Linked DNA regions of Homo sapiens. The protein of the gene in region 2 binds, or shares a complex with, the protein of the main gene of each other region. Links are inferred from orthologs where the notes say so. Each region holds a gene or a part of one and is shown on either strand. Other genes may lie near its edges. The genes, in order: CPLX1, VAMP2, NAPA and SNAP25.

What was found.
Region 1: the proteins of VAMP2 (region 2) and CPLX1 are in contact, whole or in part, in a crystal structure (PDB 1KIL), measured with the Rattus norvegicus proteins. The link is inferred for Homo sapiens from one-to-one orthologs. Residues at the interface, in NP_036795.1 of Rattus norvegicus: Arg47, Val50, Asp51, Leu54, Asp57, Gln58, Ser61, Asp64, Asp65, Asp68, Ala69, Gln76; in NP_074055.1 of Rattus norvegicus: Leu41, Arg48, Tyr52, Glu56, Arg59, Glu60, Met62, Arg63, Ile66, Arg67, Tyr70, Gly71, Ile72.
Region 3: the proteins of VAMP2 (region 2) and NAPA are in contact, whole or in part, in a cryo-EM structure (PDB 3J97), measured with the Rattus norvegicus proteins. The link is inferred for Homo sapiens from one-to-one orthologs. Residues at the interface, in NP_036795.1 of Rattus norvegicus: Gln36, Ala37, Asp40, Glu41, Val43, Arg47, Val50, Asp51, Leu54, Glu55, Gln58, Lys59, Arg66; in NP_542152.1 of Rattus norvegicus: Arg116, Thr118, Lys122, Ser157, Ser159, Ser160, Lys163, Leu197, Tyr200, Ser201, Lys203, Arg239, Ser268, Ile269, Arg271.
Region 4: the proteins of VAMP2 (region 2) and SNAP25 are in contact, whole or in part, in a crystal structure (PDB 1SFC), measured with the Rattus norvegicus proteins. The link is inferred for Homo sapiens from one-to-one orthologs. Residues at the interface, in NP_036795.1 of Rattus norvegicus: Asn25, Thr27, Ser28, Asn29, Arg30, Arg31, Leu32, Thr35, Gln38, Val39, Glu41, Val42, Ile45, Met46, Asn49, Lys52, Val53, Glu55, Arg56, Lys59, Leu60, Glu62, Leu63, Arg66, Ala69, Leu70, Gly73, Ala74, Gln76, Phe77; in NP_112253.1 of Rattus norvegicus: Gly131, Gly132, Phe133, Ile134, Arg135, Arg136, Asn139, Leu150, Glu151, Ser154, Ile157, Gly158, Leu160, Arg161, Ala164, Leu165, Met167, Gly168, Ile171, Asp172, Gln174, Asn175, Ile178, Asp179, Ile181, Met182, Ala185, Asp186, Asn188, Lys189.

Annotation. Positions count from the first base shown.
Region 1 is NC_000004.12:823,127-830,367, forward strand, and holds the start of CPLX1 (complexin-1), read right to left. Parts: upstream 3,004-7,241; 5' UTR 2,920-3,003; intron 1,476-2,919; 5' UTR 1,397-1,475; coding exon 1,366-1,396; intron 1-1,365. UniProt on the Homo sapiens protein: Positively regulates a late step in exocytosis of various cytoplasmic vesicles, such as synaptic vesicles and other secretory vesicles.
Region 2 is NC_000017.11:8,159,937-8,167,709, reverse strand, and holds the start of VAMP2 (vesicle-associated membrane protein 2), read left to right. Parts: upstream 1-4,761; 5' UTR 4,762-4,830; coding exon 4,831-4,832; intron 4,833-4,833; exon of another isoform or gene 4,834-5,258; coding exon of another isoform or gene 5,259-5,266; intron 5,267-5,340; coding exon 5,341-5,461; intron 5,462-5,943; coding exon 5,944-6,102; intron 6,103-6,185; coding exon 6,186-6,237; intron 6,238-6,838; coding exon 6,839-6,855; 3' UTR 6,856-7,773. UniProt on the Homo sapiens protein: Involved in the targeting and/or fusion of transport vesicles to their target membrane. Major SNARE protein of synaptic vesicles which mediates fusion of synaptic vesicles to release neurotransmitters.
Region 3 is NC_000019.10:47,512,059-47,518,910, forward strand, and holds the start of NAPA (alpha-soluble NSF attachment protein), read right to left. Parts: upstream 3,006-6,852; 5' UTR 2,883-3,005; coding exon 2,785-2,882; intron 726-2,784; exon of another isoform or gene 655-725; intron 1-654. UniProt on the Homo sapiens protein: Required for vesicular transport between the endoplasmic reticulum and the Golgi apparatus. Together with GNA12 promotes CDH5 localization to plasma membrane.
Region 4 is NC_000020.11:10,214,732-10,221,843, reverse strand, and holds the start of SNAP25 (synaptosomal-associated protein 25), read right to left. Parts: upstream 3,015-7,112; 5' UTR 2,867-3,014; exon of another isoform or gene 2,631-2,866; intron 2,608-2,630; exon of another isoform or gene 2,338-2,607; intron 1-2,337.

The DNA.
Region 1 (7,241 bases), on a different chromosome or scaffold from region 2:
TAGCCAACTAATTAATTATCCGTAACAGCCTGGGACTCCCTGGGTGGAACGTGCGTCCCTCCCAGCGCAGATGCAGGCTTGTCCCTGAATCACAGCCCGGTGACGCAGCCATTATAATTAGACTCAACCTGACTCTTACCCTTGACCACGAAATCTCAGGGATGTGGCCCCAGGACAGGCTCAATATCTTTTCATTTAATTTGTGTTGAGTGGAAGCACAGCCACCCTCCGGGAGACAGCCAGGCAGGCAGCTCCTGCCCTGGGGGAAGCGGCGCCTGCCCTCTGTACACCCTTGTCCCTGGCCCCTCGAACCCGGCCAGCTCCCCCACTGCAGAAATGCTCCCAGGAGGCCTGACTCACTCCAAGGTGTGAATGGCATCAGGTGAGGGTGCTCCCCCGTGGAGGCCACCCAAGCAAGACGTCTCTAGTGGTAGAATCGGGCACCGGCCACAGGTTCCCCTCACAGGAGTTCTGGGCACTGGTGCTGGGGGAACACAGGATGGACGGCTCTGGGCAAAACTGAGACTCGCCACGACAGCCCCGAGGCCTGAGTTGACCCATCAGCTCTGCCGGGACACGTCTGTACCAGCATGGCCCAGGCCCTGCCCACCTCCTGGTCTAGGAACCCAGCCACTGCTCTTGACATGGTCTCTGGCCACAATGACAGCCTTGGGTCAAGTGGGGACGAGGTTCCTTTCAAATAGCAGACAGCAGGTTGGAAGGGGGCCTGGCCCCACCCCAGTACACACAAAAAAGGCTGCACGTCCCGCCTGGGAGGCAGTCGAGACACACAAGCTGTTTCGGGCCTTTTCCTTCGCTCCCGTAACCAGCAAGCCCTGGTCCCTGAGGATGGCGCTGCCTCACCCAAGTGAAACCCACAGGGTCCTCGCCAGATGCACAGGCCAGCTCTGTCCCCACGCCTGTCCCTGAGGCTGCCACCTGCATCCTGCTCTCCCACCGCTTGGCTCTCCTCATCTGGAAGGAAGCCCCCTTGGGGGCTGCCCAGCCTGGCCAGTTAGAATTGGCCCTGTAAAGCCTACGCCAGAGTGTGCACCCTCCCCCAGGACGTGCATCAGCATGGTCCATGGGCTCTGCCCCGACCACAGCAGTGGGGCAGAGTGAGCTTACAGGGCAGCCCCTGTCCCGCCAGGAACACCAGTTCTGGCTCGGGGCCTCGAAAAGGGCCGGGCTGGGGGCGCTGCTGGGCACGGTCCTTGCTCCTCTGCCCCAGGCTCCTGTGCAGGGCTGCGTGGGTGGCCGTGTGGCTGCAGGGGCGCTGCTGCGGTGGGCCAGATGAGGAGCAGCTGCTGTGGTGGTCTCTCCATGTCCCCTCAGCCCCTCCCCACCCCACCTCCCGCTTCCTACCTCCTAGAGCCTGCTTCATCACAAACTCCATGGCGATTGCTCTGCTTCCACAGTGGCTCCTCCAGGGGTCAGAACTCACACGCAAGTATGGCCGGGAGCGAGTGTTCTTCCTGGGGGAGAGTGAAGTGGTCACAGGTCACCCTAAGCAGGCCCCTGCCTGGCCTTCCCCAGAGACCATCATTCCTTACCCGCAATACCTTGTGGGCTGGACCCTCCCCCACCTGGAGCGGCTGCCTGGGAAGTCCTTCGTGAGGGGCTTCTGTCCCCACACCCAAACCAGGACCCCAGAGGACCTGAAAATGGTCTCCCCAGCTCCTGGGGTGTCTGAAGCCTCTGCAGGGAGGGCTGCTGATGGCTTAGGGGGCATCGCTCAGAGGCGCCTGGCGCCAGGCTGCGGAAGCAGGGGCGGGGCCCAGGGGGCGTTTGAAGGTGACTGCTCCGCTCTGCAGCTCAGTGTCTGGAGCGGCGCCTCCGCGGTGGTCCCGAGCCCAGGGCCGTGGAGAAGGGTTGGGGGTGGGTCTTTGAGCGGGTACCCTTCAGGGCGGGCTCCTGTGGCTTCTGACCAGGGAGGCTTGGGTGACCCTATCCCTGACGGCACTGCAGTCAGTGTGCCCCCCACATGGCCCGCGTAGAAGAGATCGGGGTTGGGGAGAAACTTCAGGGGGCTCAGCCTTCAGGAAACACGTGGGGACGGGGACAGAGCACCCCCGCCCCGGGGGCGTGCATGGGGTGGGGTGGGGCGCTCTGGTCCCCTCTTGGGAAGCCGCTTTCTGAAATCACAGCAGCCGCAGTGAGCCCCCCGGTTTTGCGGGGTCTCTCCTATCGGGGAACCCCAGGTCCCTGGAGAGACACTGTTTGACGGTTCACCCCTCGCCCTCCGCAGAGGAAGGAGACTCGCGCGGGGACTGGGAGGGCGGCGGGCGGGGAGCGCCCCTCGGAGGCTTTGCCGCAGCGCCGATTCTCCTCCAAACTTCTCCCCTGGCTCCCGCGGCGCGGGGAAGGAGGGCACGGCCGGGCCCCGCAGACCCGCAGGGCTCCGGCCCCGCCGCACCCGCACCCCTCGGCTTTGCGGGCGGGCGAGCGGCCCTCAGGCGGGAGCGCGCCAGGAGAGGAAAGAAAGAGGGCGAGGGAGGAGAGGGGGAGCCTCGAGACAGGAAGAAGCGAGGAGGAGGCCGGGCGCGGGCCGGGACCGCGGGGGCCGCTTCAGCACCGCGGCAGTGGACAGCGCCCGCCCCGGACCCCGCGCGCGCGGAGCCCGGGAGAGAAACGGGGGCTGCGGGGAGAAGCCGGGGTCGGGGGGAGAAACGGGGGCCGGAGGGAGAGGCCGGAGCCGGGGGGAGAAGCCGGAGCCGGGGAGGAGAGACCCGGGGAGCGGAGGCCGGGGGGAGGAGCTGGGCGAAGCCGGGGCCGCGGGGAGAAGGGGGGCCGGGAAGGAGAAACCGGGGCCGGCGGGAGAAGCGGGGAGAAGCGGGGGCCGGGGAGGAGACGCCGGGGCCGGGAGGGGAGACCCGGGGAGCGGAGGCCGGGCGCGCGCTGCGCTCGGGGCGCGGTTACCTTCCCGGGGCGCGGGCGGTCAGCGGCGGGGCGCGCTCGGGCCGGCTGGGTCCATGTGGCGCCCGGTGAGCTGCGGCGGCGGCTGAAGGGCACCGCGAGGAGGGCGCGTCACTCGCAGGCGCTCCCCGCCCCCCGCCCGCGTCCGAGCGTGACGAGCACGGGGAGGGGAGCGCCGAGGGGCGGGGCCGCGGGCGCCGGGCGGGGGCGGGGGTGGACCCGGGGGCGGGGGCGGAGGCGGACCCGGGGGCGGGGGGCGGGGGGTGGACCCGGGGCGGGGGCGGGGGGTGGACCCGGGGGCGGGGGCGGGGGGCGGGGGCGGGGGGCGGACCCGGGGCGGGGGCGGGGGGTGGACCCGGGGCGGGGGCGGGGGTGGACCCGGGGGCGGGGGCGGGGGGCGGGGGCGGGGGCGGGGGGTGGACCCGGGGCGGGGGCGGGGGTGGACCCGGGGGCGGGGGCGGGGGTGGACCCGAGTGACGCGCCCCCGCCTCCCTCCAACCCGGCCCGGGCTCGACCTTCCCCCGGCGGGCGCCTGCGACCCCCGCCCGCCCCTGATCTGGGCGCCCCCGGCTCTGCCCCCCCGCCCCCAGCCCGACGGTGCGGGCCTGCTCCCTACAGGGTCCGCGCGGGGCCGGTGGGTGCAAAACCCTCGGGCGGAGAAGTCGCTGCCTCCCGAGCGGAGGGGCCAGGGGTTGGGAGTCGCTGCCGCCCCCATTCTCCGGTGACCGTGTCCCTGAGCGCCGCCCGCCGCCCCGACCCCTCTGCCCCGACCTCCCCGTATCGCAGGGCGGGAGAAGGGGGCCCCCAGACCCCTGAAAACCCACGCAAGCCCCTCGCAGCCAGAGACCCGCAGGCCGGCCCGGGCTCACTTTCGGTGTAACGGAGTCGCTGTTTCCTTTACCGGGACGAAGGCCAGAGACCCCACCGCTCCCTCCCCTGGCCCCCGGGATTTCCTCTGCAGCGGACGCGGCACTGCGGGAGAGCGGGGTCGCCGCAAGGTCGGCCCTGCGGTTCGCGCTGTGCAGTGTCGGGAGCCAGGCGGCGGGAGGGATGGGGCGCACCGCGACCCTAGAGCTGCCCTGTGCTCCTGGCGGGGTGGGGGTGGGGAGGGGGGAGGGGGGCCGCTGCCGGTGGCCGCCGCACTAACTTGTCACTGTCCCCTCCCTGCTGAGTCCTGGGGACTCCCCTGGCGCAGGGAAGATGCGGCCCCTCCCCCGCCCTCAGCCCCATCCCCTCCGGTGCCCCGTGTTTAGCCTGAGCTCAGGAGGACTCAGAGGCCTGGACTCCCAGCCTTGGCCCCAGCGCCTCTGCCCCCGTCCCCACTCTTCTGCTGACTTGGCAGGGGACCCTTCGCAGAGGAAGGGAGCGCTGGGGGAGAGGGAAGGGTGAAGGCACCAGGGCCAAGCCCATGGGGGCTCCCTGAGACAGCCATGAGGGTCCCGTGGGCCTGGGGGTTCACAGGCAACCTCCCAGAGGGGGACCCATGCCCTAGGATTGGGGTCTCTTCAGCCTCCCTGGCTGGAAGCCATGGGCACCCCCAGCACCGTCCCTTCCTCTCTCCCGGGATCTGAGCCAAGTGGGCTCAGAACGTTGGGCCCAGGGACAGGAGGCAGGACACATGCCTGGGGGCCCGGCCTGAGCCCCAGCCTGCTCTGCTCCATCTGCTCCTCTAGTCTCCTCAGGACCTGGGAGGGGACAGCAAGGGTGAGATGTTCGGGTCCAAGAAAGAGGTCACTTCTCGGCCCTGGTGCTTTCTCTCTCCATCCCTAACTGGGTGGATAACCCAACAGCTAACCCGGACAGTAACCCCAGAGAGGACCCCAGGGGTGACCCCCTGAGCCCAGAGCCAGGCTCATGACTGACCCTGCCACCTCCACAAGCTGCATGCAAGGGATATGCTGGTGCCTTTGGGACAGTCTGCACAGGAGTGCAGGGAGGTGCCCGTTCTTCCGAGCAGAAGCACTGGACTCCTAGGCTGACCCCTCCCCGTTCTACAACCCAGGCCAGCCTGAGCTCCAAGCACACCTGGAGCTGGGGCCTGGGGCACAGAGGACAGAGACCCTCTGCCAGCCCTCACGTTCTGCCCTGTCTTCCTCTGCCTCTCTCTCTGTCTCTTTCTCCGTCGCTGTATCTCTCTGTCACTGTGTCTTTCTGCCCGTCTCTCTGTCTCTATCTTTCTGTCTCTGTCTTTCTCTGTCACTGTATCTGTCTCTGTGTCTTTTTGTCTCTCTGTCTCTTTCTATCTCTGTCTCTGTCTTTCTGTCTTTTCTTTCTCTGTCGCTGTATCTCTCTGTCTCTGTGTCTGTCTCTGTCTCTCTGTGTCCGTCTCTCTCTGTCTCTGCCTGTCCCTGTTGTTACTTGTTACATCCAGCCACACATGCAGTGACTGCTTCTCAGCTCTCACACTTGTCTAGGCCCTAACCTGGGGGTGGGGGGGCCCAGCCACAACTTGGGGGAAATAGACAAGGTTGGTGACAGCCCCAGGTCAGAGTGACAAGTGGCCTAGGGAAGGGAAAGTGGGCATCTGCTGGAGGAGTTGAGGGTGGTGCCCACTCAGGGTGTGTGAGCTGGGCCAGGGGAAGGGAAAGTGGGCATCTGCTGGAGGGCTTCAGGGTGGTGCCCACTCAGGGTGTGTGAGCCAGGCCAGGGCTGCCCAGCTGGGATGGGAGTCACAGGCTGCTGGCCAGGAGCCACCCAGGCTCCGTTCCAGTGGCAGAAGGTGGTGACGCGGCAAAAGGCCTCTGCCAACCCCCACGGGCCACTTGGCCACACCAGGGCAGGTGCGGTTGGCCCTTCGAGTGCCCAGAGGAGGCCCTGAGCCCTGGAGAAGAAGCCCCGCAGACCTCCAGCCGGCTGGAAAGGGGCAGGAGCTGAGTGAGAAAGGGGCCAGCAGGTTGAAGGCCAGGTTGAAGATCCAGGCAGGGAAAACATTTTGCAGGCCGGGGAAGAGTTGGAGGCCACCCCGTCCAGGCGGATGTTGGGAGAAGGAGGAGGTGGGGTGTGGAGCAAGTCCGGGAGGAGCAGGATGGAGCTCCAACGAGGGCTCCCCCAGAGGTCAGCTTGGAGAAGTGTGAGTGCTTGGCTGGGCCGAGCCCTGGCTGTGGGGCCTGTGCCAGCCGGTTGGACATGGATGGTACCCCCGGCCCAGCCAGCCCTCTGCTCCTCAGATGCTCCATCCCCAGCCCCAGTGAGGCCAGGGACCCCAGGAGCACAAAGCAGGACTGTGTGAGGACCATGTGGCACTGGGTTTGAGACCCTGCGGGGTCACTCCAGACAGCAGGGAAAGGAGGCAGCTGCCCTGCTGCAACCTCCAGCTCTAGCCTCTCTGGAAGCCCCTGCCAAGGCCTCCACTGCCACCCTGCTCCCATCTTCTGGGTCCCATCTGCCCATAGCCCTCCTGGGTGCCAGGCATCCTCCTTGCCTTGGGCCAGGAAAGGGTCTGGGAAGCACTGTCAGGGTTTCCTGGGGTTGGCCTTCAGTCCTGGCGTGGGGTGTGGCCAGGGGGCCATGTCCCCCATGGGCCCAGCAGGAGGGCAGCGCTCTGCCACACCGCATGTGTGGATCCGGCCCACAGCACCCACCCAGAACCTTCAAACACAAACTTAATAGTTACATGTGCTGAGTGATTCAGTCTGAGTGCCGACACCATCCACGCTGTCATTTTCCTGCTGGATTTTGATATTCCAAAAGTAACAACACGTGAAAAGCGTGAGCAAAGCAAGATGTAGACCCTTGCCGTTTGCCAGAGCTGGGGCAGGACCTGGGCTGAGTGGAGGGTGTCCTCGCCTGGGAAGCGCCCTGAACCCGTTCCCCTCCTCCACTGGGTGAGAGAGGTCCAGCATCTAGCCGGGGGAAGCCAGCGCCTGGGAGGTCAGCCTAGTGGGCCCCTGGGAGCAGAGCAGAGGTACTGCCGCAGCTGAGCGAATGCTTGTGCCCCAGGCCCTGCCCTGGGGTCCTGGGATCCACGGCTGCCCGGTCACACGGTGCCCAGATCTCATGGTGCCCCAGGGCACACATGGGGCCCGCTCTGAGCTGATCTCTTGCGGCCCAGCATGGTCCCAACCATGCAGTCAGCAGCACCAGGTAGCCGGGTCAGCGGCACTCACCCCTGGCTGGAGGGAGCCTCTGAGCTGGGCAAGGCCAGGTCCCGGGCAGCCCACCCGCCAGGCCAGGGCCCTCCAGCTTCAGGGGGAGCCACCGGCTCCAGCCCTGCGCTGAGTGTGGGGTGTGGATCTGGCCTCCTTCAGCCGGGGACCCTGATCCACCAGGGACCCAGGGCAACAAAAGAGCCGCCCGTGGGGAGTGGGCTTGGGGTGGACAAACCC
Region 2 (7,773 bases):
AGCACAATGCCTGGCATTGTAGAATGAGAGAGCCCTCACTTAACAAATGAGAAAAATGAGGCCCCAGGAGAAAGGCATTTGCTCCAGGACACCATGCAGAGTGGGAAAGCTGGGACTAGAACCCAAGTCTCCTGGCTGTTAGGCCAAATCAGTTGACTCAATTAAACAAATGTTTATTGAACACCTGCTACCTGCCAGGCTCTGGGCTTGGCATGTAATATGGAAGGTAATAAGATGTCAACCAGGTGCCGTGGCTCATGCCTGTAATCCCAGCACTTTGGGAGGCCGAGGCAGGTGGATCACCTGAGGTCAGGAGTCCGAGACCAGCCTGCCCAACATGGTGAAACCCTGTCTCTACTAAAAATACAAAAATCAGCTGGGCTTAATGGCAGGCGCCTGTAATCCCAGCTACTCAGGAGGCTGAGGCAGGAGAATTGTTTGAACCCAGGAGGCAGAAGATGGCACCACTGCACTCCAGCCTGGGGGACAGTGAGACTCCGTCTCAAAAATAATTAAATAAATAAATAAAAAGGAAGATGTGGGTTCTTGACAACCTCTCTATCTAGAGGAGAATTCCTCCCCCTTTCAAAACAACAGGAGCTTGTTAAACCCAGTGAATCTCTAATGAATGGAGGGTTGGAGAGTGAGGGACCGGAACCAGGAGTCCTTTCACGCACCCAATCCCAGGAGATTCTGATCTGCCTATGTCTTCTCCCACCCATACAGGGCTCTGGCATGTGGCACCCCCACCACCCACACTGCCCTGCTTCCCAGTGGCCAGGGGCCTGGGCCTGCTCTGCTGGCTGGTTCCCTGGTCGAACCAGTAAAAAGTGATCAGTGCTTCGCCAGCCCAACTAGGACTGTCCTTACAGAATACTGGGCACAAAGGTCCTGCCCAAACACATCCTTCCCGTTAGCAGTCTGTCTGCCTGCTATGCACTCACCATAGTTTATTATTCATTTGCCTGCCTCGTTCCTGGCACTGTGCTTGGTACTTGTTCAGAGAGAACTTCACATATTAAAAAGATACCACTTTATGTGTTTACATTATGCTTTAATACAAAAAGAGACACCTTCTTGACCGGGTGCATTGGCTCACGCCTGTAATCCCAACACTTCAGGAGGCCAAGGTCGGCAGATCACCTGAAGTCAGGAGTTTGAGACCAGCCTGGCCAACATGGCGTAACCCTGTCTCTACTAAAAACAGAAAAATTAGCAGAGGTTGTAGTGAGCCAAGCTTGTGCCACTGCACTCCAGCTTGGGTGACAGAGGGAGACTGCCTCAAAAAAAATAATTAAAAAGGCCGGGCACAGTGGCTCACACCTGTAATCCCAGAACTTCGGGAGGCCAAAGTGGGCAGATCACCTGAAGTCAGGAGTTTGAGACCAGCCTGGCCAACATGGCGCAACCCTGTCTTTACTAAAAATAGAAAAATTAGCCAGGCATGGTGGCGGACGCCTGTAATCCCAGGGACTCGGGAGCCTGAGGCAGGAGAATCTCTTGAACCCAGGAGGCAGAGGTTGCAGTGAGCCGAGATCACGCCACTGCACTGCAGCCCCGGCCGACTTCTAAACCAGTAATTGTCTGAAGAGAAAAAAAAATTACGAAATAAGGCCGGGCATGGTGGCTCACGCCTGTAATCCCAGCACTTTGGGAGGCCACGGTGGGTGGGTCACCTGAGGTCAGGAGTTCGAGACCAGCCTGGCCAACATGGTGAAATCCCGTCTCTACTAAAAGTACAAAACGATTAGCCGGGCGTGGTGGTGCACTCCTGTAATCCCAGCCACTTGGGAGTCTGAGGCAGGAGAATCACTTGAACCCGGGAGGTGGAGGTTGCAGTGAGCCGAGATCGCACCATTGCACTCCAGCCTGGGCAAGAAGAGCGAAACTCCATCTTAAATATAAATAAATAAATAATAATAAAAATAAAAAATAAAAGAAAGCGTTTATGAAAGTGTGGTCTCGGCCAGGCGCGGTGGCTCAAGCCTGTAATCTCAGCACTTCGGAAGGCCAAGGCGGGCGGATCACGGGGTCAGGAGATCAAGACCACCCTGGCTAACACGGTGAAACCCTGTCTCTACTAAAAATACAAAAAATTAGCCGGGCCGGGTGGTGGGCGCCTGTAGTCCCAGCTACTCGGGAGGCTGAGGGAGGAGAATGGCGTGAACCTGGGAGGCGGAGTTTGCAGTGAGCAGAGATCGCGCCATTGCACTCCAGCCTGGGTGACAGACAGAGACTCTGTCTCAAAAAAGAAAAAAAAAGAAAAAAAAAAGAAAAAGAAAGTGTGGTCTCTGTTGCCTACATCACCATCACCTTGAGTCCTACATCCTTTGAATGAGTCTTGGGGGTGTGCCCTAGAAAATCATTGGCCAATTCCCGAAGCCAGTACATGTAGAAGCCAAATCTGAGTTATGCAAATACATTATTTTTCTATTGTTCAACTTACCTCTATTTGGGTCTCCATTCTACCTGCCTGCAGAAAACATTCTCTCAGTCACTTCCAGGTGAACTCCGTCATCCCACTCCTTCTCCCACCTCCACCATTGATCTAAATTTGGGGAGTTCCTCTGAGCCACAGCCTAGGTGGGGTGGGGTGGGAAGGGGCTGCTGGATGAGAGTCCTCTTTCTGAGATGAATCCTCCTGGGCCCTTCATCTCCGTGGGTCACACATGCCCTCATTTCTACTCTGCTGCTGCCGTCCCCACGATCCAATAGCAATAGCACGACCCCTGGCCTTGACCGTGTATCTGGGGCTCTGTCCCTTCCACATCACCCCCAAACCAGCATCAAATGTCTTGTCTGGCTCTGCACTAGGCTCCCCTCAGTTAGTGCAGGGTGTCCAACTGGGGGCGGAAGGGCTTCCTGTGCCTGCCTCTTCCAATCCTCCATGTCTTATTTATACCCTGACAGACACTGAGGGTTTTGAACTTAAAAGGCTGGAATTTGGCATCTTTGTTCTCTGACTAGAAAGAGGAATCATTTGAAGACCAAAAAGCAGGAGCCAGCATCTCACAGCATGATCTGAGACCCCCGTGGAAGCTGCTCTTTTCTTTCTCATCACATAGGCTGAGCCACCCGGGACTGTCAGTGCACAAGGACCAGGGACGCGGCTGCTCCTCTGAGGGGGAGGAAGCCAAGAGTATCTTCTCTTAGATTGGGCTGAGTTCCCACACCCAGCACACACATTCCCTGCTCACTCACCTCCCACAGACAGCTGGGAAATGACACCTCTGGTGACAGAGCCACTCTCCGGGCTTCTGTGGGGAGCGGGTGGGGCACTGCAGTGGGGGAGGATCTCACACCCGGAGGCCCTGGGAAGCCAGGGTGGGGGAGGGAGGAAGCTGGTTCCTGTTTGTCTTAGAGATCAAGGCCATCAGCCTCCCTGCACCTTCCAGGGATGTAGTAAGCACCCCCACCCCAGGGCCAAAGGGCCTCGCCTAAAATGCCTCCTGCACCCTTGAGGCTTGCTTTGACCCCCTGCACTCCACCAGAGCGACAGCTCCCCTGGTCCCATCTTCTCTGACAAGCTGGGTGGGAGTGTATACAGCTGCTGGGTGTGCTTAGAGGGCCTAATGGAGACCAGCCAGGGATAATCTCCTATGTTATCCACATCAAGCCATTTAACAAATATGGATTTAGTACCTACATATGCAATGTATTTGGGGTCCAGAGAGAGGAGGGCAACGGTCCAAGGTCACACCTGCGAGGCGAATACGCATGTAAAGCAGCACCTTGTAACCTGTGCCCACTGTGCCTACTACTAAAGAAAAAAAAATGAGAGAAAAAGAAAAAAGGCTTTTTTTTTTTTTTTGGCCCAGGCCCTGTGCCTGGGACCAAAGCCTGAGCCCTTTCCTGCAGTCGGGTCGCTGACCTAAGCCTGGGGCAAAGCTAGGTCTTGGCCAGTCAGCAGCCACCACGTGAAGCAGCCCCTGCCCCCATCACCCCCGGCAGCCTTGTGCCCTCCTCCTCGGGGTCCTCAGCTCACCCCACCTCAGTCGGGCCTGCTCCAGCGGTTAAGTACCCCTAGTCTGAACCTTAATCGTGAGGCGGGGCAGCCCCCTCCCCACACCCTGTAGACACTCCCCCGTCCTCCGCCCCCTGGACTTGTTTGGGCGGGAAGAGCCTGCCTCATCTTTTCTTCCTACCCTCCTACCCAGTGGCCAGGGACCCCAGGCTTCCTCTGAGACATCCACCAGCGGTGATGGGTTGGGACCAATCTCCCCCACTCCTCTCCACCCTAGCAGTAAGGTCCCCGCTCTCGATACTGCCCCAGCACCTGCACTGGCCCTCTCTGATTTCCCAACTCCAGCCCATTCCAAGTGCTGAAGGCGGGTCGCTAGGTGCTGGGACCTGGGCGCGGGGCAAGACCTTGGGCTGTGTGGGGTGCAGGCTGGTTTACTGGGTTCACGATTGAGGGAGTGGTCTGGGGGTTAGGTGTAGGGCCAGGCTGCGTTGTGCTCTAAGGGGCAGGCGGCAGGCGGTTTGGGGGGGCTGTGGTCAGACAGGGTGGGGTGGCGGTGGGTTTGGGGAAGCCGCAGCAGCCCGCCTTGGGGTCCCGCGAGTGCCGAGGGAGCTGCCGGGGCATGGTGGCGCGGGGCCCGTGGTCCTGCCCGGCACGACCCCCGCCCCGCAGCGCCCCGCAGCGCCCCGCCCCCGCGGCCCCGCTCGCGACGCGTCTCCCGCGGCGCCCCGCCCCCGCCCGCAGTGCCCGGATGCGGGTGACGCGCGGCCGCCATCTTTCCGTCCCGGGCAGCCAGCGCCAGTCGGAGCCAGCGCGAGCCGCCGCCGCCATCACTGCCGCTGCCAAGTCCTCCACCCGCTGCCCCCGCCATGTGAGTCGGCCGCCCGCCACCCTCACCGCGCTTCCCTGCGCCGGCCGCCGCCCTTGGCAACCGGCCGTCGGGAGTGCCCGGGGTCTCTCCTGCGTTCCCCGCGCCCCGGGGCCAGGCCCAAGCCGGTGACTGCGCGCGGGCGGCCGAGGAGCCCCGCGTCCCGGGCTGGCCGGCTCGGGCGATGGCCGCGGGAAGGAGCGGACCCAGTGTCCTCCTGCCCCTCCCCGCCCCTGTCACCGCGGCCGCCTGTCTTTTCGGGTCGACCCGGATCGCATCTGTGAGGTCGCCCTCAGTTGACAGGCGGGGAAACTGAGGCCGGGGGGGCCTCGCTCAAGGTCACGCAGCTCATCGGCGGCAGGGCTGGACCGAGACCAGGGCTTACATCGGGTGGCCTTCCTCCCGAAAAGGAGGACTGGAGGGACGAGGATGGACAGGTGGATGGGCGGAGCCCTGGCTGCGGGGCCGGGAGGCTGCAGGCCCTGGGTCTTAATCCGTCCCTGCTCCTCAGGTCTGCTACCGCTGCCACGGCCCCCCCTGCTGCCCCGGCTGGGGAGGGTGGTCCCCCTGCACCCCCTCCAAACCTCACCAGTAACAGGAGACTGCAGCAGACCCAGGCCCAGGTGGATGAGGTGAGTGTGGGGGGAGTCAAAAGCAGTAGGAGGGACCCTGGGGGTTGGCGTATAGGTGTAGGGGCCCATGTTGGTTTGGGAGTGATGACAGTTCACGCCTGTGGGTTTGCGGACAAAGATACCATGCCCCATCCCTGTCTCCCTGTCAGCACGCACTTGGAAGGGCGCTGGGGGTGTTAATCAGCTTTGCTAGCCTGGGGTGTGCCAGCCTGGGCAGGTGTGCTCTGGTGATGGACAGAGCGCCTGAGGTTCCATAGAGGGAGGGTGTTGCTATGACATCTGAGATGTCACCAGCATGCCCCTGATGTGTGCTCCTTGCATGTCCCCAGGTGTGCTAGGCATGTTCTGTGTGTCCTTGGCATGTTAACCTGGCAGTATCAGGGTGCATGTTCCATGTGTGGCACGGTGGGCACATGTTTGAGGATTGCCCTCACTGAGGTGGGCCTTGGCACACCCCCCTGCCTCGTGGGCCCTTCTCCCAGGTGGTGGACATCATGAGGGTGAACGTGGACAAGGTCCTGGAGCGAGACCAGAAGCTGTCGGAGCTGGACGACCGTGCAGATGCACTCCAGGCGGGGGCCTCCCAGTTTGAAACAAGCGCAGCCAAGCTCAAGCGCAAATACTGGTGGAAAAACCTCAAGGTAAGGGTGGGGACAGGAAGGAGGACAGGTGGGTGAATGGGGTATCATAGTTTGTCTTACTGATCCTCGCCTCTCACCCCCAGATGATGATCATCTTGGGAGTGATTTGCGCCATCATCCTCATCATCATCATAGGTGAGTAGGGTGAGAATGGCCGGGGCCCTTTCCCTGGAGAGGTTTCCCCAGTGGATTCTAGGTTTTGAAGGTCATTAATCTAGTTTTTACTCTTCAGCCAAAAACACATATAGCTGCTAATGGCAATTCTGATTCATCTAGAGCCAAAAACTTTGATGTTATTTAGCCTGCATTTTGCCTAGTTCTTGGCAGTCTTGTTAACATTTGGAAATAGGAAAGCTGGTGTATCCATTGAGGACCCTTTAGGCCTAAGAGCCCAGTCTGAGAACCCTGGAATTGAGGAGTGGGAGAAAGGAAAGGACCAGGGGCTTGAGACATGACCAGGAAGCCAACCACCCCATTATTTGAGAGCTTGCGGTCTCAGAGGCTCAGAGGATTAGGGTCTGTGGCTTCAAGGCCATACCATGGAGCGGAAGGGACCTCAGAACCTACCTGTCTAGCCCCTTGCTTTGTAGATGGAAAAACTGAGTCCAAGAGAGGGTGTCAGCCAGCTGGGGAGTGGGGAGGATTGGAGCAGGGCCAGGCCTGACACACTGCTTTCTTGTTCTCTCTCTTTCTCTCCCCTCTCCCTCTTCCTCATCTTCTTCCCCTCTCTCCACAGTTTACTTCAGCACTTAAATCCCCGAGGAGTCTGCCCTGCCTAGAGAAGGGCCTCTCCCCCAACCCTCAGCCGTTCCTCCACCTCTCAGCCATATCTTTCAGCCCCCACTCCCCTGGATCCGTGTGTGTGTGTGTCCGTGTGTGTGTCCCCCTGTAAATAGCCAGCTGTTATTTATACATATATAATATTATATATATTTGGTCTGTTTGTAGTTTTATTACTAGATGATTTTTCCGGTTGTCCTTAACACCCCTTCCTGAGGTTCCCTTCACCCCTCTCTCTTGCCTTCCTTCCCTTTCCCTTTCTTCCTGACTAGCCCCAAGTCCCTTCATTTGCATCTGCTATGCAATAGTCCCTCTCCTTTCCTTCTTCTTCCCTCAGATTTAGCTGATCCTTCCTCCCACCCTGGCCTTCCTTTCCTCTTTCCTCCTCACTCTCCCCGTCATGCTCCCTCTGCCCCGCCCTCAAAAAAAAAAAAAAAAAAAAAAAAACAACAGCACCTGTCCAGGCTTCCTTAGGTACATCTTCTTTGTATCCATTGGGAGGCTCTGAGACTGGCCCCACTTGGTCCTAAGAATCCCAAGGTCTTTGGGAGCGTCCAGCATGTTAATTAGCGTATCATTACATACTGCTATCCCTTTCCATTTCTTTTTGTTCCATCACTCTTCTCTCAACCTGTGTTTCTTTTTTTACTGAGGAGTTAGTCCCCATTAGTTCTTGTATCACATTTTCATTTGCACGACATTACTCGCAGGTGGTGGGGAGCCTGGGCTTTTGGGGAACCAGGCTGCTCTGGTCCCCAGCATTGCCTCCTCCTAGCCCCTCTAGTCCAGTTTGCCTCCCTTACCCTCATTTTCCAAACCTCTTGTACCCTCCTCTCCCTCCCCCAGCTGGTATGTAAGTGTCTTGAAGTTCAGTATGTTATGATGGACCAA
Region 3 (6,852 bases), on a different chromosome or scaffold from region 2:
TCCCTGTGTTCCATCTTCCTAAGGCATGCTCCATAATAATCCTTGCCTGGAGTGCTGCTCCCTGCCAGAGAGCACCCCAGAACTCATGTTCATCCCCCCAGGGTTGGGGCCTCTCCCCCAGGAAGCCATTTCTGATCCCTCTGGATCTCAGTTCCCTGTCTTTCCAGGCAGAACCTCCCGTCACGGTAGATCTCTGTTGCACCATCCCTGCTGCCTAGAGCACCCTCCCCGGCCCCACTCCCCAGCAAGTCCTGGGATTCCTTGGGGCCCAGCTCACTCCTCACCAAGAGCCTCCCCCTGGTTCACGCTGCTTCCTCTGAGCTCAGACAGTCACAGGAATGACATCATCGAGCCCCTCCTTACAGTAGGTAATTCCACTTTATTGGTGTTTGCTGTTCATCCTGCCTTCCCAATCAGGTAGCAAATGCCTTGGGGCTGACTTAGCTGCTCCCTCCAAGCACACAGTCCAACAGCCCACTAATCCCTGGGCCAAAGGGACCAGACACCCAGAGCCACCCAGGAAAACTATCACCAAAAACCCAGCTCGTGGCCCCACCCCCAAACACAGCACTTGAACTTCTCCCCTTGTGAAGAAAAAGAAACACACACACACCCTCTCTCTCCTCGCAGCCTCTAAAATAAAACATTTTTCACCTAATCAATCCAGTCCATCAGCCCCGGATGTTTCTCCACACCAGGCAATTCGCCATCATGTTCTTCAAGTTATTTTGCTAAACATTATCCAACCTCAAACAAGGGGCGTGGCCTAGAGCCCTTTTCCTGTTCCTTCCTCTCTTGTAAAGATCCCTCTCCTTCGTGTCTTACCAGCCTCTGCCAGGCTCCTACCACAGTCTCTTCCCATCCCCAGGCCCTCCTCCCAAACCCCCTTCTCCAGCCTTCTGCAGATGTTCCCAGTCCCACCACCGTCCCCAGGCTCTGCTTCTGAGTGGCCACCACACACTGTTCTCTCTACAAGCCCACTAGTCCTTTCCCAGGTCTCCTCTCAGTTTCCACAACCTCCCCTTGACCCTTTCGGGTCGTCCCATCAGCACAGATCCCACCACCTCCCACACCACCGCCCCCTGCCAAACTCCCTTCTCCTTCCTCTGCCCAGAGCCTCATGCTCCTCTCAACCCTACTAAGTCTTCGTGGATCCCTTTTCTGTTCCCTTTCAGCTCCTCTTAGCACACTCATGTTTCTCAGTCTCTCCCTCTCCTGACCCCTCCCAGACCTCTCCGCTCGGGCGTCCACCTTGAACCCCCATCAGCTCTCTGCACGCTCCGAACCTGTTTCCTTCTGGAAGTCACATTAACAACAGCTAACACTCTCAGAGATGTAACTCCACGCCAGGCTCAATTCTAACACTCATAGCAAATGGGAGGTAGGTTTGATTTGTGATCTCCTTTAGCAGGGAGACTAAACAATTTACCCAAAGTCATGAAGTAAGTGGCAGAGCTACTTGGGCTCTTGGCACTTCTAAGCCACTACAATTTATCACAGGATGGTCGTGTCAGCTTTTAGGAGCTAACGTGAGTTTTATGCCACGTCATATGTGTTAGTTCTGTCTCCCAGGCCTTTTCCCATCCCTCTTCTCAGCATGTCTCTGTCATCCCTATTACTCGAGGATCACACAGCAGGAATTTGATCCCCCGTTTTGGTTCTCTCAGTCCCCCTGTCTCTCCCTGTTATCCCTCCATCTCCTTGGCCAAGCCACCACCACGCATTCCCCCACCCAGGAGTCTCCAGCCTCAACCCAGGCCTCCTCAGGCTTTTTTCTTTCTTTCTTTCTTTTTTTTTTTTTTTTTTTTTGAGACAGAGTCTCGCTCTGTCCCCCAGGCTGTAGTGCAGTGGCTCGATCTCGGCTCACTGCAACCTCTACCTCCGGGTTCAAGTGATTCTCCTGCCCCAGCCTCCCGAGTAGCTGGGATTACAGGTACCCGCCACCAGGCCCAGATAACTTTTGTATTTTTAGTAGAGACGGGGTTTCACCATGTTGTCCAGGCTGGTCTCGAACTCCCCGCCTCAGATAATCTGCCCACCTCGGCCTCCCAAAGTGCTGAGACCTCCACAGTCTTGACTCCATCATCCCGGGTTCCTCCGTTCAGCTGTCCTTAAACTAGTCACTGCTAACCAGGGCCGTACTCACCCCATGCACCCCCCACACTTCAGACGCGGCTCACCGCTCCTAGGATCATCTAGCCCTGAGCCCCTCTGCCTGGTGTCAGCCCCCTTCAGCCTTCACCCTCACCGCCCAGGGCCCACGCAAATCCACTGCTCCAGGGGTTGAAAAGGTCAGTCCCTCGGGCAGGCGTCCTCAGCCCCAGGCCCCATCACTGCCGCCTGAGAGCCTTCAAACAGACTCCCCTAGAGCTCCGAAAAGCCTCTGGACCTGGCTTCTCTCCCGGACTCCCTCCGTCCCCCCAGGCCGGTCCCCTCCAAGGCTTCAGGACGTACTCCCTCGGTCCAGGTTCTCCCCCGCCCGCTGGCCTGTCTTCGGCCTGGGTCCCCTTCCTCGCCTCAAGATAGTGTCGCCTCGGTCCGTGTGTCCTCAGCCCAAATCCCTTCCGCCATGTCAGACCGTCTCTCCTCAAACCGTGTTGCCCCGGCCCAGGCTCTTGGCCCTCAGCCTGCGTCCCCTCTGCCGCCTCAGGCCATGTCACCTTATTGCAGGTTCCTCTCCGTCCCCTCGGCCCGAGCTCTGCGTGCCCTAACCCGCCACCTCCGAGCGTGACTCCTTCGTCCTCTCAGCCTAGGTCCCGGCCGACCCCTCAGCCCGGTTCTCACCCAAAGAGGCCAGAGAAGAAGGACTGCGAGTTCTTCACTTTGCGCTCCGCCTCGGCCAACAGCGCCATCGCCTCCGCTTCCTTCCCGGAATTGTCCATGGCGGCCACAAAGGGACTCAGCAAAGCGCCTGACCCTGACCCTGGGAAGACTCAGCCGCGGCCGGGCCGCGGAACACAGATCGGTAAAACTCGCCCGGCTGCGTTGACGTCGCACCGGCGCGCGTCGCTTGCGGCCAGGAACCACGTGACTAGCGCTGGCCAACCAGCGGCCTCGTAACGCCGCGCCCGCTCCGCCGGACACGCCCCCACCAGCCGCCGCACGCCGCCCGTGACTCGTGACCCCCCAATCGGCGTCAAGAGACCTCAACGCATGCGCACATACCGGCGAACGGCGCTCCACTCTCTCCCCAGCGCTCTGTACCTCACCTCCCACGTGACCCTGTGGAAGGCAATGGCAGTACCCCCCGCCGAGGCCCCGCCCCACGGTGTTGCTGCTGGATCCTCCTCCACCAATCAGCAGGAGCCCTCGGCTCGCGCTGGGGCGGGGGGTCCCCCACTCGCCCTCCCCGCGGAACTCTGGCACAGTCAGCTGACCGCAGACACTCACGTGACAGCTCGGGGCCCACGCCCGGGTTTGACAGTTCTGCGCAGAACTTAGTCCCGCCCCCGCGGCTGGTCTCGCCGGTTTCTTCACTTGGAAAGGCGTTTGTGGGAAAAGGAAACCGTTCTGCTTTTTCTTGCTCCCTCTGTCGGCCAGTACTAGAACTGCTTTGGGGAGACCGGTGAAGAGAGACTGCAAACAAAAACTTAAGAGGTTCTCTAACTCTGGTTTCATAAAAAATAGCTGAAGAGGGCCGGGCACGGTGGCTTACGCCTGTAATCCCAGCACTTTGGGAGGCCGAGGCGGGCGGATCACTTGAGGTCATGAGTTTGAGACCAGCCCGGCCAACATGGCGAAACCCCGCTCTACTAAAATACAAATATTAACCGGGTGTGGTGGCACACTCCTGTAATCCCAGCTACTGAGGAGGCTGAGAGAGGAGAATCGCTTGAACCGGGGAGGTGGAGGTTGCAACGGGCCGAGATCGTGCCACTGCACTCCAGCCTGGGCGACAGAGTGAGACTTAGTCTCAGAAAAAAAAAAAAAATAGCTGAAGAGAGCGTGTTAAAAAAAAATTCAGATTCGAAGATGGGCGCGGTGTCTCGTGCCTATAATCCCAGCTACTCGGGAGGCGAGAGGATCGCTTGGGCCCAGGAGTTTGAGTCTAGTTCAAGTCCCGCCTTGGGCAACATAGCAAGACTCTGTCTCTAAAAAAAAAAGTTTAGGCTCAAACACACCTCCTGCTGTCCCAGAAAATTGAGTTGCTGGTTTCTGAGACAGGGTCTCACTCTTTGGGTTGTTGGTTTTGGAGACAGGGTCTCGGTCTGTCGCCCAGGCTGGAGTGCAGCAGCACAATCATAGCTCACCTCAGTATAACTTTGTAGTGCCAGAAAGGAAGGAAGTATTCCACACGTGTGCTCACACACAAAATTAGGGGGTATGCCAAAGGAGCCAACTGAAAGAACTCCCAATGGCCAAAGCTGGAACAATTTGAGCATCAAAATAAAGTAGTATTGGATTATAATCCCAAACATAAAGTATCCATGAGCCTATGGTCATATAGATGAATATAGAACAAATAAATAAAGGGGGGAGAATAGACAAATAGTTTGTGCAGAAGAATTCCAAATAATCTGCGTAGATACTCTGCTCTCAAGAAGGTGAAGGATACCTCCCCATTCTGTAAGTATGGACTGTGCATAGTGACTTCCTTTCAAAGAAGAGGGTACAAGAAAGGGGAGAAAAAGCCTAAATTTACAGTGGAGAAACCTGACATTGACATCTAGGTGATTGAGGTTAACCTCAACATTGATAAGTCATGTGATTAAAATGGCTCTTTACTTCTGGGATCTTTCAATCTAATCATGAAAAAAACACTAGACAAATTCCAGTTGAGCCACATCCTCCAAAATACTTGCCCAGTACTCCTCAACACTGTTGGTGGGTGCAGTGTGTCACATCTGTAGTCCTGGTACTTTGGGAGGCCAAGGCAGGAGGATCACTTGAGGCCAGGAGTTTGAGACCAGCCTGTCCAACATGGGGAAACCCCGTCGCTACTGAAAATACAAAAAACTTAGCCCGGTGAGGTGGTGCATGCCTGTAATCACAGCTACTTGGGAGGCTGAGGCAGGAGGATCACTTGTACCCTGGAGGTGGAGGTTGCAGTGAGCGGAGATTGCCTCACTGCACTCCAGCCTGGGGGACAAGAGGGAGACTCCGTCTCAAACAAATAACACTGTCAAGTCATCAAAACAAGGAAAGCCTGAGAAACCATCACAGCCAAGGAGACGTGACTGCTAAATGTAATGTCTTACCTTCGGTGGGATCCTGGAACAGAAGGGCATTGAGTTAAAAAACCAAGGAAATTGGCCGGGTGCGGTGGCTCATACCTGTAATCCCACCACTTTGAGAGGCTGAGGCGGGTGGATCACCTGAGGTCAGGAGTTCCAGACCAGCCTGGCTAACATGGAGAAACACTGTCTCTACTAAAAATACAAACATTAGCTGGGCCTGGTGGAGGGCGCCTATAGTCCCAGCTACTCAGGAAGCTGAAGCAGAATTGCTTGAACCCAGGAGGTGGAGGTTGTGGTGAGCCGAGATTGTGCCACTGTGCTACAGCCTGGGTGACAGAGTGAGACTCCATCTCAAAACAAACAAAAACACTAAGGAAATCTAAATAAACTATGAAGTTTAGTTAATAATATTGTGCCATACTGGTTCATACGTGGTAATAAATGTACCATTCTAATATAAGATGTTAATCATAGGGGAAACTGGGGTATGTGGGAATTTTTTTTTGCTGTCATTGCAGTTTTTCTACAAATCTAAAACTATCCTAAAAATCTTCTTTAAATAAAACAGTTTCCAAGGCCGTACCCACAATGGTTCCAATTCTGAGTCTGTGGTGGGTCACAGGAATCTGCATTTTTAAAAAACAGAACCCTATATAATTAGGATGCAGCCAGACCTGGTGGTTCATGCCTGTAATCCCAACACTCTGGGAGACCAAGGCGGGAGGACCGCTTGAGCCTAGGAGTTAAGGACCAACCTAGGCAAAAAGCAAGATCCTATCTCCACAAAATTAAAAAAATTTTAATTACTCCTTGGGAGGCTGAGGTGGGAGGATTGTTTGACCCCAGGAGTTTGAGGCTGCAGTGAGCTATGACTGTGCCACTGCACTCCAACCGGGACAACAGAGTGAGACCCTGTCTCATCTCAAAAAAAAAAAAAAGTAAAATTAGGATGCAGATAATCCCGGGACCACAGTTTGAGAAACCGCTATTATCTAGGGGGTTGGCTGAGCCGAGCAAGGCATAAGAAGCCTTCCCCCAACTCTCTTCATACATGAATAGACTTGCCTGGACCACCTACTTGTGGTTGCCACTGTGTCCTGACCACAGAGCAGGTGGGGGTGAGCCTGGATTACCACAAGCGGTTTTGGTTCCATGTCTGTCAAAGCAACACTATGTAAAAGCTTCTGTTTAAGCTGTTCCATTTCAGGGTAATTTGTCATGCAGCAACAGATAATATAACCCCTCAGCCTTTTCAACCAGGGAATTTTTTTCCATTTCCAGAGTTCATTGGATTTATTTAGGATGGGATCCAAACAATATTAGCAATCACATGAGAGCTTGTTAACTAGTAGCCATTCAGTTCTTATGGTGCACCCTCCCAAGTGCTTAATTTACATTTTATTTCTATTTATTTATTTATTTTGACATGGAGTCTTGCTCTGTTGCCCAGGCTGGAGTGCAGTGGCACGATCTCTGCTCACTGCAACCTCTGCCTCTGGATTCAAGCAATTCTTGTGCCTTAGCCACCCAAGTAGCTGGGATTACAGTCATGTACCACCACACCTGGCTAATTTTGTATTTTATATTTTTAGTAGAGATGGGGTTTCACCATGTTGGCCAGGCTGGTCTCGAGCTCCTGACCTCAAGTGATCCGCCCACCTTGGACTTCCAAAGT
Region 4 (7,112 bases), on a different chromosome or scaffold from region 2:
TGCTGAAGGCTGACTGCTTACGCAGCTTCTAGGTGTCACTGGCAGAAACATGTCTTTCAGCTGATAACCCTCACTCAAGGGTTAACATTTAGAGCTTGGGAATATCTTTAGACAAGCTAATTAACGGGTAGTTTGCATTGTGTTTGTGCATGTGTGGTTGTGCGTGTTTAACAAAGTAAAAATAAAATTGTGAATTCTTGGGAGATTTTGCCATGAAGAGGTTAAGAGGATTGTAAATTGTTCTGTAATTTGAACACTGAGGTGGTAATGCAGTAAATGCCGATGAACAAACAGGCATCAGAGGGTCTGTGTGAATGACTCCTGGCTCATCCTATGTCCATCTGCTCCTGCCTCTTCTCACCGCATTGCCCTGGATTTTAAAAATTCTAACTTAAAATGGGAAATTTCTCGATTTTTTTTCCCTGGAAGCTTGTCAATGATATAAATGTTAAATTCATGGTTCAATGATATATTTTTTAAATTTCTCAGTAAGCTATTCTAAAATTAGCTTTCTAATTGTGCACATTGCTTCTTCCTCTCAGCTCTGTGCCCTTTGCCATCTTCACTGCGGTCCTCTACTTCCCCCGCTCCTCCCCAGTCTTCCACTAGCAAACAAACCCAGCAGTAATTACTAATGTCCAAGCACGTAATTCCGGCAGCATTAGGCTTTTCATTTGACGCAACTACGCAGACAGCTGTCTGGACATGCAGCATGAAGTTAAAGCATTTTTAAAGATTCCTGCCCATATTTTCTCTCCTCCACTACTAAAACACAGTTGTTTATTTTTGTCTGCAGATTGCAAAGTTATAAACTTCTTTTATACGTTTACATACTCATATATAAATGTCCACCCAAATAATTTTACATCCATGCAAAATAACAGATCAACATATACATACATGGAAACACATGGTCATCTATAAAAAGAAAAAACACTAGGAAATAATTAAATAGCAGCGAATGAAATTACCTTCTGTATATGGACAGGGAATTTTAGTGTCTGTAGCATACAGATGATAGGAGGTATGACTATCTAAACACAATCCAAGTTCTCATTTGGGGTCTTTTAAGGGGATCATGATAGCGTTTCTTTAATGCATTGTATAGATTATTACATATGACGCTGTTACTCTTTTTTGCTAATGACTCAAATGGCATAATTTTGACTCTGGTCATTTTTATGCCAGTTTTATCTACATCAAACAGAGAGAAATACCCCTGATGACTTTTGCTCTCTCAGATGCTCCAAGCCTCAGAGTAGAAAATGGTTAAAGTAGTTATTACCACCTCAGCAAAATCCCGCAGTGCCATAAGAGAAATTGCAGTAGACCTTTAGGTCAGAGTTAAGTTCTAGTTTAACACCATGGTTCTTTACCTGCATTACCCTGAAGGACACACTTGGATTCTCCTGAGGAAGGCCAGTCTTAATATTGTCAAAATCTAAAGCTATCAGCCTGCGATAACCAGTGCTGATAGCAAATACTTCCAGTAACTCTGAAACCGTGGCCAAAGAGGTTAAATCTATTCAGTACAGGACCAGTAAAATTTCTCAGATATGTGTTTTTGTGGATGAATGCTTGTATTCATGCCTGATTGCAAGGATGGGGGAAGAAGGAAAAGGAAGAGTGATTCATTCTTAAAGTTGATTCTGCTTAGTTCAGCTAATCTCACATTTTTATCAAATGGAAACATAGAGAGAGATGTATCATCCCTATAAACAGATAGCATTGGCTTCTTCATATATACAGTACTTATGCTCACCCAAGATCTGTAGACAGATCTACTCTGTGTTAAAAAACAAAACCAAACAAAAACCTTGATACCCTGCTGGAGGATAAATCCATATTTTTTAAAAAATGTATTTATTTTCTACGTAAAATAAGGGTCAGAGGGCAACACAGAAGATTTCCACAAGTAGACTATTTTGTTGAAGCTATGCAGGAGGTGAGGAGGGGAACAGGAAATTGTCTGCAAAGGAGTCTCTGTGAGGAAGATTTATTTCTTTCTTGTTTTCTTTTAAGCTACTATGACTCCTCTATTAAGGGTCTCCGTAAGACCGGGGTCTCAGGGAGACAATTTGGTCTCCAGCCCTGGCACATCCAGCCCCGGCCAGGCATTTCTGCCGCAGGCAGATGAGGCGCTGCGGCCGGACCGCTGTCCCCGGTGCTGAAAGGTCGAGGGCGCCCGCGCGAGCCCTCGGTGTTGCTATCCAGGGTGCTGAGCGCGGGCCGCCGCAGTCCCCGAAGCCAGCCCACCCGCGCCAGCCCTCCGCAGAGCCCTCCCACCCGGCACGACCCGCCCGCCTCCCGCCAGCCTGCAGTTGACGTGGAGCAGGCGGCATAAATCAAGTCCGCGGGGCATGGAGGCTGCTGTCGCTGCAGCAGCTCAGCTTGCCCGGGGCGGGAACTCCCCCTTTCTCCTTTCGCCTCCCCAGCACCCACACCCTGTCTCCCCCTTAATTCTTCCCTGGATAATAGCACCCTAACGACAACAGTCATAATAATAGGGTTAGAACGACAGGGGAGGAAAACTCAACAGCCTAAATATCTCTGAAAACTGCATCGCAAAATGGAAGAAAGAGGGGGTCCCACTACTGTTTCAAAAGAGTAAGTTATTATTCGGTACGTACCCTCGCTCTTCCTCCCCGTCGCTCCATTTGCAGGGCTCCCGTTTCCCTTTTCCCCAGCAGCTCACCTCGAAAACACTTTATAAAGCCCCCACCAGACGTGCACACACGGAATACCGCACCCTAAGTGCACCAATACTTGTATTTACCCAAGCCCACTCGGACTGCCCAGCTGCTGTCCCTTCTGGGTATGCAGCCATCCCGAGCCAGAGCCACGACCTGGGGAGGGGGGTTCTTACCTGGGCTTCTCGGGAGGGTTGTGTTCTCCGGGCCTCTGCAGGTTGCAACTGTGGTGGAGCCGCCGAGCAGGGAGGGAAGGAAAGACAGCGCCTGACCTCCCCGAGGTTTCGTCTTCAATGCAACGTGAGCTCTGCCCTCATCAAAGATGGCCGTCCGTTTTGACGTCAGCAGCTTTTAATAGCCGCCCAGCGAGGGGCGGGAGGAAGTGGGGGCGGGGCACGGCGGGGGCGGGGGCGGGGCCCGGGCTGCGGCGCGCTTGACTCGGTTCCCAGTGCGCTGGCCTGCAAACCTGCGTGTTTTCACCTTCTATAAACACCCGCACGGGGCGACTCTTATGACTCCATTTTAACACTCGGTCTTGGGCAAACGCGTTCATCCCGCAACTGCATTCCTGATGTTCTTTGGTGTGTGTGCGTGTGTGTGTACATATGTGTATATGTGTGTGTATGTATATATGTATGTGTGTGTATATTTTATAATACATGTATAATATATGTATAATTTGTGTGTATGTGTATATATTCCCCCCCACCCCCACCCCCACCCCCTTTCAGTGGAATCTGTGGTTGAGTCATCTAAGGAGAGGGGAAGGCAGAGGAGGGGTAAAAGGTAGTGATGGGAGGGGTGGGGGAAATTTCAGCGGCGATTTGTTTTCTCCGAAGAGGGTCCGTAGGGGCATCCCCGTCCACCCTCGCCAGCTCCATATATGGCCAGGCTACGTGGGTTGCTATTTTTATGAGTGATTGCTTCATGTTATCGAAGCAGCGTCGAGGGCTTGTGGCTCTCGTTGCTGTGGTCAGCCGGGCAGCGAGGCTGGCGCACGTTATTTTGAACTACGTCAGAGCCAGGCTCTCTGAGCTGTTGCAGGAGTCGGGGGAAGGAGAAGGGAAGCGGAGTTAGCCCAGCCAGCGTGGGTTTGCAAGGACTCGAGGCTTGAAGTTGAGTTGTTTGCCGAGGGCAAAAACGGATGACTCTGCTTTCGGTGGAATTTGCAGTCGGTGCTGGGGTTTCATGCTGGGTGTCTTAGGGGTACCCCACGGAGGCACAGACGCCCCGAGGGAACCGTCCAAACGGCCGGGAGGAGGTGGGGGATTCAGAGCAAGGACGGCTGGGACACGGCCGAATCTGGGGGTTCACTCAGTGCGCAAACCCCGGGGTACCCGTGCAGGCTGCCTCGGGGGGCCCTCGGATGCTCAAATCAGGGCGGGGAGACAAAGGCTACTTGTGCTGGTCGTATTAGAGATTAAAAGTGATAATTATAAAGCAACAACCCTAACTGTCCTCCCTGGCCGTGCCCGGGCCCGGGAAGGGGGTGGTGCGCGGATCGCTCGGCGGTGGCAGCCTCCCGGATGATTCACAGGTGTTGGGGAGGCTGTCGCGGGGCTCTCCGCAGGGAGGGAGGGCTGGGGAGCGCGTGGGAGGTGGGGGACCTCGTCTGAGGAACTGTTTGTACTTTTCCGGGAAGGATGCGATTAGAAGTCGTGCCTCGCAATGTTAAAACTTGATGGCCTCTTTTAGGCTATGGAAAATCCTTGTCTCGCTTAGGAGAAACCATTTAGAGCTGGGTTCGGAAAAGCGGCGTACAACCTCTCCCCTTGCACCCTCGCCCCCCACCCCCGCCCCACCACACACACACACACACACACACACACACACACACACACATCCCTAGCTGGCCTGAGAGCCAAGCTTAGGCAATAATACGGCCTTTGATTGCGCTCCATTGCGGAGGGAGGGAAGCGGGGTAGGGGGAAGGGAAGAAGAGTTGTGAAGGCGCTGCGTTTAGAAAGAGACGGGTTGTTAAGAATTTAATAAAGGATACCTTTAATCGAAATTAGTAGACATAATTGTTTCTTAAAGATTCCCTGGCCTGAAGGCTTTTTTTTGACGTATTGATGTTTTTGCCATAATAATTAACAGTGTTTGGATGTTAATTAAAGCCAAATTCCTAAAAAAGGCATGTTGCTGAAATTTGTTTACTTAAATATTCATTAAACATTTAAGATTGCCATACAATAAAGAAGAAAATCTGCAAAGTCCTTAGATACTTAATTGCCAATAAAAGTCTCTTGAGTATGGCTCTTACTTTCATTATAAAGCAAGTTGGAATAGGGGGAAAGGGGTTTGAATGCAATGTACTGCAAAATCCTTTGTAGTCAGAATTTTTTCCAAAGTGTGACACTTTAAAAAAAGGCAGCATGCGGAAGTTTGAAGAGAAAAAAAAACCTGCAGAGGGAGAAAAAAAAATGTGTGTATGGCCCTCAGACTAGAAATCATTCAGGCAGAAAGTTTTGTGAAGGAATGGAGGAGGTGGGGGATTTTCCAAGTTAAAAAAAAAAAAGAAGTTAAAAAGCAACTACGTCAGTGATGGAGGCTTATCCTGCAGGCAAAAGCTATGTAGCAGTCACAGGGAAGGACTGGCTTGGTATTCTGAGTTTTCAACTGCTGATGCCCCACACTGACATCTATAAAAATGACAGACAAGAAGAGAGAGGCAGACTGTTTCAAGGCATTACAGAAAATACCATGGACCCTACAAGATTAGCTGGTGGTGGTGACAATGTTTTCCATTGCTAGTGCTTGTTGTGAAAATGATGCTGTTTGAGAGGTTCTTAGAGGTTCTTCATCTTGCTCTGGGAAAGGTAACAGAGTGTAATTTGAGATACATAAACATTGGGTACATAAAAATCTGCTAGGGATGACCAGATAACCCTAAATGTATTTTGAATAGGATAATGAGATTTTTTTCCCTTAGGATTTTCTCACGGCATGATTAAAGCAAAACAAAAACAAACAAGAAAACGTCATCATCTTTGCCAGTAGAGAACCAGCAGATTCATGATACTCAGGGTTTGCAAAGGCCTGAACCACACAGGGAAGGAAGGTGATGGAAAATTTGTTCCAAAATGGTTCAGCTGCTATGGGTTATTTCTGCAAAGAACTAACACACAGAGTATCTAATGCTTAGGATGAGTAACGAGAAAATTACCTGCTCTGCTAGATGGATATTTACACTGTGATAATTCAAGCCTCTGAAAGCTTTTTTGGTACATTATGCCCCAAAGTATTCTGGTTTGCAGTAGCTCTAGGTCCAAGGTATTTAGCTTGTATCTCCAAGGTAAGGTGCAAGATTCATAGTTGACTCAATAACTACAATTTTATAAGTCATAATAATAATAACTTTTCTAAAATCCCATGTGATCTTTCCAAAGTCAACTTGGAAGCAGTTTAGAGATAGCCCAGCTCAGAAGCCCTCTCTCCAGGGTCCTCCTTTGGGACATGCCTGGCACCCTATGACAATGTTTCAAAACACTGTGAGGGCAAAGAATATTCAGTTCTGCGCAAGAATATTCAGTTTGATAGAGCAACTGTTTTGATTCCTTGGTTTGCTTTCCAAGTGGTTTGCTTGCCACTTTCTCTTCATATATTCTTCTAGCCCTTAATCCAGCCCCCCACCCCATTTATATATAGTGAAGTAGCGGTACCTTAAAATGCCTCGAGTAGTTTAACTCTAGGTTTAAACTATCCAGGCTGTTCTTGTTCCCTGAAGCCTCTAAGGTAGATATAGATCTTGTGAAAGGTAAAAAGAGAACCAGGAATATTAGTTGCTGTTTCTGGTTTGCCAGGTTAAGAAAAAATAGGACTGTACACTCAGAATATTAAATAACACTTTATTCTTTATTACAGACAGTATGGTGAGAAGGAAGAAGGGGAGTGTCCAGCAGCCACAGGCTGGATGTTTCCACACTTTTGTTCCTTGATGCACCAAAATTACAGACTTTCTTTTACAATGCATCCTAGGACCCTTCCCAATGCTGAGACACGCCTGTGGTCCAGTAGGGAGGAAGAACCTGTGACAATTAGGAACAGAGAGGCAGAGAAAATGGTAGTCCAAATTAGTACACTTCAAAAAGGCTATTTGTTAGGGATCACAGTATTCCTTGAGTAAATCTTTTAGGAATCATATTAGTTCTGTAACCTCTTTGTATCTCAATTATCTCATAGGTAAAATGGAGACAATAATTATAGCAAATACACAAGGAAATTATGAAGCACTGAGTGTCATGTCTAGCACTATGAAGTATTGGCTAAATAAAATCTATCATTTTGATGAGACTTTAACTTTATTTCTCTAAGAAATGACATGTAGCTTGGCTTTAATATGGAGGATTGCCATTTTTTTCATTAGCTATTAATTAGATATGTATCAATCATACTGGGCCTTGTTTTTTTCATCTATATGAA